2 separate regions of the Homo sapiens genome follow, and region 2 is linked to region 1. The links come from fine-mapping of genetic effects on gene expression. A gene starts in region 1. The other region holds a variant in brackets. All regions are shown on one strand. Distances are between the middles of the regions. Region 1 holds the start of OXCT2 (3-oxoacid CoA-transferase 2). Region 2 has its middle 30 kb from the start of PABPC4-AS1.

Evidence for each region.
Region 2: its variant is fine-mapped to the expression of OXCT2 in esophagus muscle (GTEx, PIP above 0.99).

The regions. Positions count from the first base shown.
Region 1 is chr1:39,768,674-39,773,933 of GRCh38, reverse strand. It overlaps OXCT2 (3-oxoacid CoA-transferase 2), which reads left to right and starts at 2,586. Exons shown (of 1, transcript NM_022120.2): 1 at 2,586-4,411. The coding sequence starts at 2,679. The coding sequence ends at 4,232. All of the region lies in intron 3 of BMP8B (bone morphogenetic protein 8b), which reads left to right. RefSeq lists enhancers at 1,867-2,539, 2,540-3,213 and a silencer at 2,554-2,653.
Region 2 is chr1:39,532,045-39,537,530 of GRCh38, reverse strand. It overlaps the pseudogene PPIEL. Among named protein-coding and RNA genes, the nearest start is that of PABPC4-AS1, 30 kb to the left of the region's middle. The variant G/A (reference allele first, on the strand shown) is at 2,849.

The sequences.
Region 1 (5,260 bases):
TGGGGATTCACGCCCTTGTTCATTCCACAGGTGACACTGGGGAGAGCCTCTTTTATGCCAGGCAGTAGGAATACAGAGGCCAAAGTGGGCACGAGATGGGTGTGTTTGAGGCCCGGCAAGGGGGCGCCATGGAGCAGCGGTGAGGGCGGGGGACCCAGGGGCCATTCTGAGTCAGAGTAAACCAGGGCCAGGTGCTGGGGTTCTTAGCGTCATTTATTTTATTTACTAGCAGTGGAGGACGACAGGATCTGATTCAGGTTTTAAAAGAGAACCCTCTGAGATGCCCCCCTCTCGGGGTGGAGCAGAGCTCCCCACCCCTTCCGTGGGCTGCACCCAGTGACTTGCTTCCCGAAAGTGCGGTGTGGACAGGGCGTGGGGGACCTGACGCGCAGCGCCTCAGCCAGGTGAGGAAGGCTCACTGCAGTGACCGGCACGGTGCTAGCATGTGCCCTGGGTGAAAGGGAAGGAGAAGGCCACTGAGCCTCAGAGGGCCCCCTCCGTGAACCCAAAACCCCAGTCCAGCCACGAGAAAACCGTCAAACAAACCCAAAGAGAAGGGCTTTCCGCAGAATACCTGACAAGCGCTTCTCAAAACCGCCAAGCTCATCAAAAAAAAGGGAAGGTTGGGAAATTGGAGGAGCCCAGAGGCACCTAAGAAGACCAGCTCAGTGCATGTGGGGTCCTGGGTTGAGTCCTGGACCAGCAAAAGGTCATTAGGGAGAAGTTATGAAATCCAGATCGATCATGGTGTTTACTTAATAATAAGGTATCAGTATTGGTTCATTAGTTATGAGAAAGGTACCCTGCTAGTGTAAAATATTAGCATTTCCCAGAGGAAACTGGGTCCAGGTGTATGGGAACTCCTTGTGTAGTTTTTTTTTCTTTGAGACAGGGTTTGGCTCTGTTGCTCAGGCTGGAGTGCAGTGGCGCAATCACAGCTGACGGTAACCTCCAACTCCTGGGCGCGAGCGATCCTCCCACCTTAGCCTCTGTACTATCTTTACAAAGTTTTATGTAACTATCAACTGTTGTAAAATTAAAACTTAATATATGCATAAAATAAAGAACCCCCTGACTTCAGTGGAGAGAGCAGACTGAGATGGACAAGAGTGAAGTCAGAGAGACGTGTGGGGGCCCCACAGTGGTCCAGGTGGGCGCTGTGAGCGACTTGTTGGTAGCAGTGGAGATGGAGAAAGATGAGTCGATTTCAGTGTCAGGACATGCTTATAGCTGGCGAGGAGGTGAGGGAACAGGAGGAAGCCTGAATGATGTGTGGTTGGAGCCAGTGGATTTTTTTCAATAGATTTTTCTTTTTGGGGAAAAGATAGATGAAGGGCAGGTTTGAGGTGGGTGGCCAAGGGTTCTCTTTTGGCTGGAATATTACTGACCCCCCTGGGATGTTACTGAGATCACTGGTCCTCATGGAAATGCCATTACAGGGACCGGTGAGTGTGAAGACCCAGGCGAGGGAGGTGCTGGCATGTAAGTGGATTTAAAGCATGGGATGGGACCAGGTCATCTAGGGAAGGAGGGTAGTGATGGAGAAGAAAGAGGGCCTGGCCCAGAGCCCTGGGACCTCCAACATCCAGAGACCTCACAAGGAGGGGCCACAGAGAGCCCACAGAGACCAGCCAGGGAGGGAGCAGGACACCTGGAGGATGAGGTGATCTAGACGCCAGAGTAAAGTGTTTCCAGAAGCAAGGGTTTGTCATTTGTGTCCTGCTGTGGGCACTGAAGGCAAGAACAGAGAAGTGACCAAGGGTTTTGCCATCACAGAGGTTGTTGATGACCTAAATATCCGTGGAGTGTGGGTCTGACTGAGGAGGTGGAGGGAGACAGGCAGTGGAGGCAGGAGACAGCTCTTTCCAGAACCTTTGCTGGGGAAGGGGAGCAGAGACATGGGCTGGGGCTGGAGAGAACCCGGGACAAGGCAGGTCCTTTCCAGGTGAGGAGACGCCTGCACGCTGCTGTGGTGATGCAGTGATTCTGTGCAGAGGGAAGAAAACTGCAAAATTCCGCACAAGTTGGAGCAGGGAGCTGGAGTGGGGGAGGTGGAGAGGGCGGGGGGATGCAGAGGACAAGACGGGGGGCCTCTTCAGAGCAGGGACCCTTCCTGATGGAGGTGAGGGATACTGTCCCCACTGTCGCAGTGAGGGGTGAACCTGAGCTCTGGGAGGCTGTAGTGGGGCAGGCACTCACTCTCCGGGTTGTCACAGGATTAAAGGAGGGTGCTTGGCACAGAGTGATGCCCAGTGAAGGTGTTCATGAGCGTCGGTGTCACCCAGCGGCGCCTGCTCATTGGACACTTGGTGTCTTTAATGAGCTGGGGAAGCTGGGGGGAAGCTTGGGCGGGGTGGTTGGAGTTTGTGTCTGAGGCTCCACTGGGGCAGGAGGGGACCTAGCCTGTGCCCTTCTCGCGGAGCCTGACCTCAGCTCTGTCCTGCGCCCGGGCCTGTGCGCTGGACACGGAGGACTGACTCGGGGGCCCCCAGCCCAGGGCGGAGCCGGCCCCCTCCCTGTTGCGGGTCGCGGGCCTAGCCTAGAGCCTGCGCCTGGCCGGGGAGACCTGCTGGGAGGGAGTGCGTCAGGGCGCGGGCGCCCGCCCTGCTCTGTGACGCGCGGCCCGAGGCGCACGCAGGGCTCACACCACCTGTCCTGGCCTCCGACCCGGGCCGACTATGGCGGCGCTGCGGCTCCTGGCGTCAGTGCTCGGGCGCGGGGTCCCCGCCGGCGGCTCAGGGCTCGCGCTGTCCCAGGGCTGCGCCCGCTGCTTTGCCACCAGTCCCCGGCTCCGTGCCAAGTTCTACGCGGACCCGGTGGAGATGGTGAAGGACATCTCTGACGGGGCGACCGTCATGATCGGGGGCTTCGGGCTCTGCGGGATCCCCGAGAACCTGATCGCCGCGCTGCTCAGGACCCGCGTGAAAGACCTGCAGGTGGTCAGCAGCAACGTGGGCGTGGAGGACTTCGGCCTGGGCCTCCTGCTGGCCGCCAGGCAGGTCCGTCGCATCGTCTGTTCCTACGTGGGCGAGAACACCCTGTGCGAGAGCCAGTACCTGGCAGGAGAGCTGGAGCTGGAGCTCACGCCCCAGGGCACCCTGGCCGAGCGCATCCGCGCGGGGGGCGCCGGGGTGCCCGCCTTCTACACCCCCACGGGCTACGGGACCCTGGTCCAGGAAGGGGGCGCCCCCATCCGCTACACCCCGGACGGCCACCTGGCGCTCATGAGCCAGCCCCGAGAGGTGAGGGAGTTCAACGGCGACCACTTCCTTTTGGAGCGCGCCATCCGGGCAGACTTCGCCCTGGTGAAAGGGTGGAAGGCCGACCGGGCAGGAAACGTGGTCTTCAGGAGAAGCGCCCGCAATTTCAACGTGCCCATGTGCAAAGCTGCAGACGTCACGGCGGTGGAGGTGGAAGAGATCGTGGAGGTGGGGGCTTTCCCCCCAGAAGACATCCACGTTCCTAACATTTATGTAGATCGCGTGATAAAGGGGCAGAAATACGAGAAACGAATTGAGCGCTTAACGATCCTGAAAGAGGAAGATGGAGACGCTGGAAAGGAAGAGGACGCCAGGACGCGCATCATCAGACGCGCAGCTCTGGAATTTGAGGACGGCATGTACGCCAATCTGGGCATAGGCATCCCCCTGCTGGCCAGCAACTTCATCAGTCCCAGCATGACTGTCCATCTTCACAGTGAGAACGGGATCCTGGGCCTGGGCCCGTTTCCCACGGAAGATGAGGTGGATGCCGACCTCATCAATGCAGGCAAGCAGACGGTCACGGTGCTTCCCGGGGGCTGCTTCTTCGCCAGCGACGACTCCTTCGCCATGATCCGAGGGGGACACATCCAACTAACCATGCTTGGAGCCATGCAGGTTTCCAAATACGGCGACCTGGCGAACTGGATGATCCCTGGCAAGAAGGTGAAAGGCATGGGCGGTGCCATGGACTTGGTGTCCAGTCAGAAGACCAGAGTGGTGGTCACCATGCAGCACTGCACAAAGGACAACACCCCCAAGATCATGGAGAAATGCACCATGCCGCTGACCGGGAAGCGGTGCGTGGACCGCATCATCACCGAGAAGGCCGTGTTTGACGTGCACAGGAAGAAAGAGCTGACGCTGAGGGAGCTCTGGGAGGGCCTGACGGTGGACGACATCAAAAAGAGCACGGGGTGTGCCTTTGCTGTGTCCCCGAACCTCAGGCCCATGCAGCAGGTGGCACCCTGACGGGACCTGGATCTGGGCGGGGTGGTGCGCTCCTCAGGGCGGGTGCCACCGGGTTCCCCAGGGGAATACATGTCCCCAGCTCTGGGAGGGGTTTGCTACTGGCCTCCTACTTTCCTCCCTAGGTGGACAGTGCTCCTCTAGAGAGCTGCGACTTTAATTAAAAACAACAGGAAAACAGATCAGTTCCTCACTGTGTTTCTCGAGCACTGCAAGGCGCAGGTCTGCAGTGGTGAGGAATGGATGTCCGCTTTGCTCTGTGATGTTTACACAGAGCGTGCACAGCTCAGTGCATTCACAGCAAGATTTGATTCAAGCGCCTCCCTCGTACTTGAACCATGAAATGGAGATAAAAACTGACGAGGGAGAAAATCACTCAACCCAGAGTACACCTGAAGGGACATTTTACTACTGCAGTGAGAAATAGGCGAGCAAAGATGTGAGTTTGTGATTGGAAGACATGCTATCTTCACGAGCTTGTTTTTTCTTTTTCCTTCTCTTTCTTTTTTCTTTTTTTTGAGGCAGGGTCTGGCTCTGTCGCTCAGGCTGGAATGCAATGGAATGCAGTGATCTCACTGCAACCTCTGCCTCCTGGGCTCAAGCAATCCTAATTCAGCCTCCTGAGTAGCTGGGACTACAGGCGCACATCACAATGCCTGCTTATTTTTTTTTATTTTTTAAATTTATTTATAGAAATGGAGTTTCACCATGTTGCCCAGGCTGGTCTTGGACACTTGAGCTCAAGCGATCCACTTGCCTCAGCCTCCCAAAGTGCTGGGATTACAGACATGAGCCACTGAGTTGGGCCAATTAACCTTAGCTTACTGTAATTTTTTTTCTTTTTTAGACAGAATCTCGCTCTGTTACCTAGGCTAGAGTACAGTGGTCCAGTCTCAGCTCACTGCAACCCCTGCTTCCTGGGTTCAAGCAATTCTCATGTCTCAGCCTCTCAAGTAGCTGGGATTACAGGCATGTGCCACCATGCCTAGCTAATTTTTGTATATATATTTTTAACAGTAGAGATAGGGTTT
Region 2 (5,486 bases), 240 kb after region 1:
AGTCTTGCTCTGTCTCCCAAGCTGGAGTGCTGTGACATGATCTTGGCTCACTTGCAGCCTCAACCTCCTGGGCTCAAGCAATCCTCCTGCCTCAGCCTCCCAAGTAGCTGGGACTTATAGATACATGCCACCACACCTGGCTAGTTTTAAATTTTTTGTAGAGATGGGATTTTTCTCTGTTGCCCAGGCTGGTCTTGTATTCCTGGACTCAAGTGATCCTCCTGCCTTGGCCTGCCAAAGTGCTGGGATTACAGGCGTGAGCCACGGTGCCTGGCCCCAGGCCTTTTAGACTGAACTCAGACATCACCTCCTTCAGAAAGCCTTCATGATGAGTGTTTGTGTGAGTATCTGTTTCTCTTTTTCACAAACACTTAGGTGACTCTAGTGCTCCCATTCTATGCACAAATGTCTCTGTCACTGGGCTTTGCCATTTTGTAGTGTAATTATCTTTTTTTTTTAACGGCTTTAGTAGGATATTATTTACATACCATCCAGTTTGCCCACTTAAAGTACACATTTTAATGGTTTTTAATGTATTCACAGAGTTGTGCAACCATCACCACAAATAATTTTAGAACATTTTATCCCCCAAAAGGAAACTTCATACCCTTTAGCAGTTGCTACTTATCCTGTTGGTCCCCTGCCCTGGGAAACCCGAATTTACTTTCTGTCTTTATGGATTTTCCCATTCTAGGCATTTAATATAAGTGGAATCATACAATATGTAGGCTTTTGTGAGTGTCTTCTTTCACTTAGCATAATGTTTTCAAGGTTCATCCATGTTGTAGCATGTATCAGTACATCATTCCTTTTTTTTCTTTTTGTTTTGGTTTTTGGTTTTTTTTTTTTTTTTTTTTTTTGAGATGGAGTCTCACTTTGTCACCCAGGCTGGATTGCAGTGGTGCAGTCTCGGCTCACTGCAAGCTCCGCCTCCTGGGTTCACACCATTCTCCTGCCTCAGCCTCCCAGCTGGGACCACAGGCACCCGCCACCACGCCTGGCTAATTTTTTGTATTTTTAGTAGAGATGGGGTTTCACCGTGTTAGCCAGGATGGTCTCGATCTCCTGACCTCGTGATCTGCCCACCTTGGCCTCCCAAAATGTTGGGATTACAGGCGTGAGCCACCGCCTCCGGCCCCATCATTCCTTTTTATTGCCAATTAATACCCACTGTCTGCACCCCACATTTGTTTATCCATTCATAAGTTGATAGATTGTTTCTACTTTTTGGCTATTACAAATAATGCCACTGTGAACATTCACATACAAATTTTTGTGTAGACATATGTTTTCATTTCTCTTAGATGTAGCCATAGAATTGGAAATGCTGGGTTATATAACTATTTATTTATTTTTTTTTGAGACAGAATTTCACTCTAGAGTGCAGTGGCACAATCTCGGCTCACTGCAACCTCCACCTCCCTGGTTCAAGAGATTCTCCTGCCTCAGCCTCCCCTAGCTAGGATTACAGGCATGCACCTCCATACTCGGCTAATTTTTGTATTTTTAGTAGAGACGGAGCTTTGCCATGATGGCCAGCTGGTCTCGAATTCCTGGCCTCAAGTGATCTGCACAAAGTGCTGAGATTACAGGCATGAGCCACCGTGTCTGGCTGATAACTATTTTTAATGTTTTGAGAAACGACCAGACTGTTTGAAGTGGCTGTACCATTTTGCATTCTTTTTTTTTTTTTGAGATGGAGTCTCACTCTGTTGCCCAGGCTGGAGTGCAGTGGCGCAATCTCAGCCCACTGCAAGCTCCGCCTCCCGGGTTCACGCCATTCTCCTGCCTCAGCCTCCCGAGTAGCTGGGACTACAGGCGCCTACCACCACGCCTGGCTAATTTTTTTGTATTTTTAGTAGAGACATGGTTTCACCGTGTTAGCCAGGATGGTCTTGATCTCCTGACCTTGTGATCCGCCCGCCTTGGCCTCCCAACGTGCTGGGATTACAGGCATGAGCCACTGCCCCATTTTGCATTCTTAACGGCAGTGTATGATGTTTCTGATGCCTCTATACCCTCACCAACACTTGTGATTATCCTTCTTTTTTTATTAGACCTATCCTAGTGATGTGAAGTGGTATCTCATTGTGGTTTTGATTGGCATTTCCGTGCTAGTTAATGATGTTGAGCATCTTTTCATGTGTTTATTGGCCTTCTCTATATCTTCTTTGGAAAAATGTCTCTTCAGACCCTTTACCAATTTTTAATTGGATTATTTGTCTTTCTATTGTTGAGTAAGAATTCTTTTGTTTTTTGTTTTTTGAGACAGGTTCTCACTCTGTCACCCAGCCTGGAGTGCAGTGATGTGATCACAGCTCACTGCAGCCTTGACCCTCTGGGCCCAAGTGATCCACCTGTCTCAGCCTTTCAAGTAGCTGGGACTACAGGTGCATGCCACCAGGCCCAGCTAATTTTATTTTTTGTAGAGACAGGGTCTCCCTGTGTTGCCCAGGCTTGCCTCAAGTGATCCGCCTGCCTTCACTTCTCAAAGTGCTGGGATTATAGGCATGAGTCACCACACCTGACCAAATATAGTCAAGAGTCCTTCTTTTTTTATTTTTGTAGTGACGGGGTCTTGCTCTGTTGACCAGACTGGAGTGCAGTGGCACAGTCACAGCTTGCTGTGGCCTCAAATTCCTGGGCTCAAGTGATCCCTCTGTCTCAGACTCCTAAGTAGCTGGAACTACAGGCATGCACCACAATGCCTGGCTAATTTTTTCTTATTTTTTGTAGAGATGGGGCTCTCACTTCGTTCCCCAGGCTGGTCCCAAACTCCTAGCCTCAAGTGATCCACCCGCCTCAGCCTCCCAAAGTACTGGGATTACAGGCGTGAGCCACTGCGCCC[G/A]GCCTTTTCTTTCATTCTATAGGTTGTCTTTTCACTTTTTTGATGGCGTCGTTTGAAGCACAAAATATTTTAATTTTGATAAAGTCTAATTTATCTTTTTTTGTCACTTGTACTTTTGGTGTAGTGATTATGAAGATTTACTCCTACACTTTCTATTAAGTATTTTATGGTTTTCTCTCTTACACTGAAGTCTTTACTCCATTTGAAGTTAATTTTTGTGTATAGTGTGAGGAAAGTGGTCCAGCGTTACTCTTTTACATGTGGATTTTCAGTCGTCCTAGCACCATTTGTTGAAAAGGCTAGTTTTTTTCCTGTTTAATTGTCTTGGTATCCTTGGTGAATATAGTTGACCATAAATGTAAGGGTTTCTTCTGGATTCTAAATTATATTTTGTTGATCTGTATGTCTGTTATTAGGCCATTACTACTGTGTCTTAAATTCCATAGCTTTGTAGTAAATTTTTAATTCTGGAAATGCGAGTCCTCCAACTTTGTTTTTCCTTTCAAGATTGTTTTGGTTATCCTGAGTCTCTTACATTTCTTAAGAATTTTGGGATAAGCTTATCAACTCGTATGAAAAAAGCCAGCTAGGATTTTAATACAGATTGCACTGAATGTGAAGAATTTAGGAGTATCATCATCTTAACAATATTAAGTCTTCTGATCCATGAACACAGGATATCTTTTCATTTGTTTAGGTCTTCTTCAGTGTTTTTCAGTAATGTTCTTTGGTTTTCTTTTTTTTTTTTTTTTAATTGGGATGGGGTCTTGCTATGTTATCTAGGCTGGTCTCGAACTCCAGGGCTCAAGCAATCCTGCCACCTTGTCCTCCCAAAATGCTGGGATTATAGATGTAAGCCACCATGCCTAGCGAGTCAGAATTCTTTAAATATTTTAGATACAGGTCTCTTATCAGATGTATAATTTGCAAATAGTTTCTCTCATTCTTTTTTTTTTTTTTTTAGACAGGGTCTCACTGTATTGCCCAGGCTGGAGTGCAGTGGTGCAATCACAGCTCACCACAGTCTTGGAACTCCTGTACCCAAGTGGTCCTTATGTTTCAGCTTTACAACTAGTTGGAACTATAGGCACACACCACCACACCTGGCTAATTTTAAAAAATATTTTTGTAGACAGCTGTGACTGCACCATTGCACTCCAGCCTGGACAACAGAGCAAGACTCTTCTAAAAAAAATACACACACATATATATATAGCAATTATATTTCTTTTCTTATTTTTGAGACAGAGTCTTGCTATGTCGCCCAGGCTGGAGTGCAGTGGCAGCATCTCAGCTCACTGCAAGCTCCACCTCCCGGGTCCACGCCATTCTCCTGCCTCAGCCTCCTGAGTAGCTGGGACTACAGGCGCCCGCCACCACGCCGAGCTAATTTTTTGTATTTTTAGTAGAGATAGGGTTTCACCATGTTAGCCAGGATGGTCTCGATCTCCTGACCTTGTGATCTGCCCGCCTCGGCCTCCCAAAGTGTTGGGATTACGGGTGTGAGCCACCGTGCCTGGCCGTAGATATAGCAATTATATTTCTATACATCAGCAATGAACAACCTGAAAACAGAATAAAAAGAAAAACAATTATACTTACAATAGCATAAAAAAGAATAAAATATTTAGGAATAAGTTTAAAAGATGTATACAGCTTATACTTTGAAAACCACAAAACAGGCCAGGCATGGTGGTTCACACTCATAATCCCAGCACGTTGGGAGACTGAAGTGGGAAAATCACTTGAGTCCAGGAGTCTGAGACCAGCCCGAGTCAACATAATGAGACCTCATCTCTACAAAAATATATATAATCAATTGTATATTGATTTTGTATTCTGCAACATTGCTAAACTTGTTTAATAGTTCTTTTTTTTTTCTTTTTTTGAGATGGAGTCTCACTCTGTCGCCCAGGCTGGAGTGCGGTGGCACGATCTCAGCTCACTGCAACCTCCACCTCCCAGGTTCACGCCATTTTCCTGCCTCAGCCTCCTGAGTAGCTGGGACTACAGGCGCCCGCCACCACGCCTGGCTAATTTTTTGTATTTTTAGTAGAGATGGGGTTTCACCGTGTTAGCCAGGATGGTCTCAATTTCCTGACCTTGTGATCCGCGCACCTTGGCCTCCCAAAGTGCTGGGGTTACAGGCGTGAGCCACCATGCCCGGCCTGTTTATTAGTTCTAATAGTTTTTTTTGTGGATTTTTTAGGATTTTCTATATGCAAGAGTGTGTCATCTGCAAATAGAAATAGCTTTACATTTTCCTTGCCGATTGGATGCCTTTCATTTCATTTTTTTCACCTAATTACCCTGGCTAGAACCTTCAGTACAATGTTGAATAGAAGTGTCAAGGGCAGATATCCTCGTCTTGTTCCTGACCTTAGGGGGAAAGCATCTTGTCTTTCACATGTAGTTTTCTGTTGATACCTTTTATCAGATTGAGAAAGTTCCCCCTTCCACTCCTAGTTTATTGAGTTTTCATTATGAAAAGGTGTTGGATTTTGTCTACTGCTTTTTCTGTATCTGAGATGATTATGTGGTTTTTGTTCTTTATACTATTGATAATTGTCTATTACATTGATTGATTTTTAGATGTTAAACCAACTTTGCATTCCTGAGATGAATCCACATCTTTTTT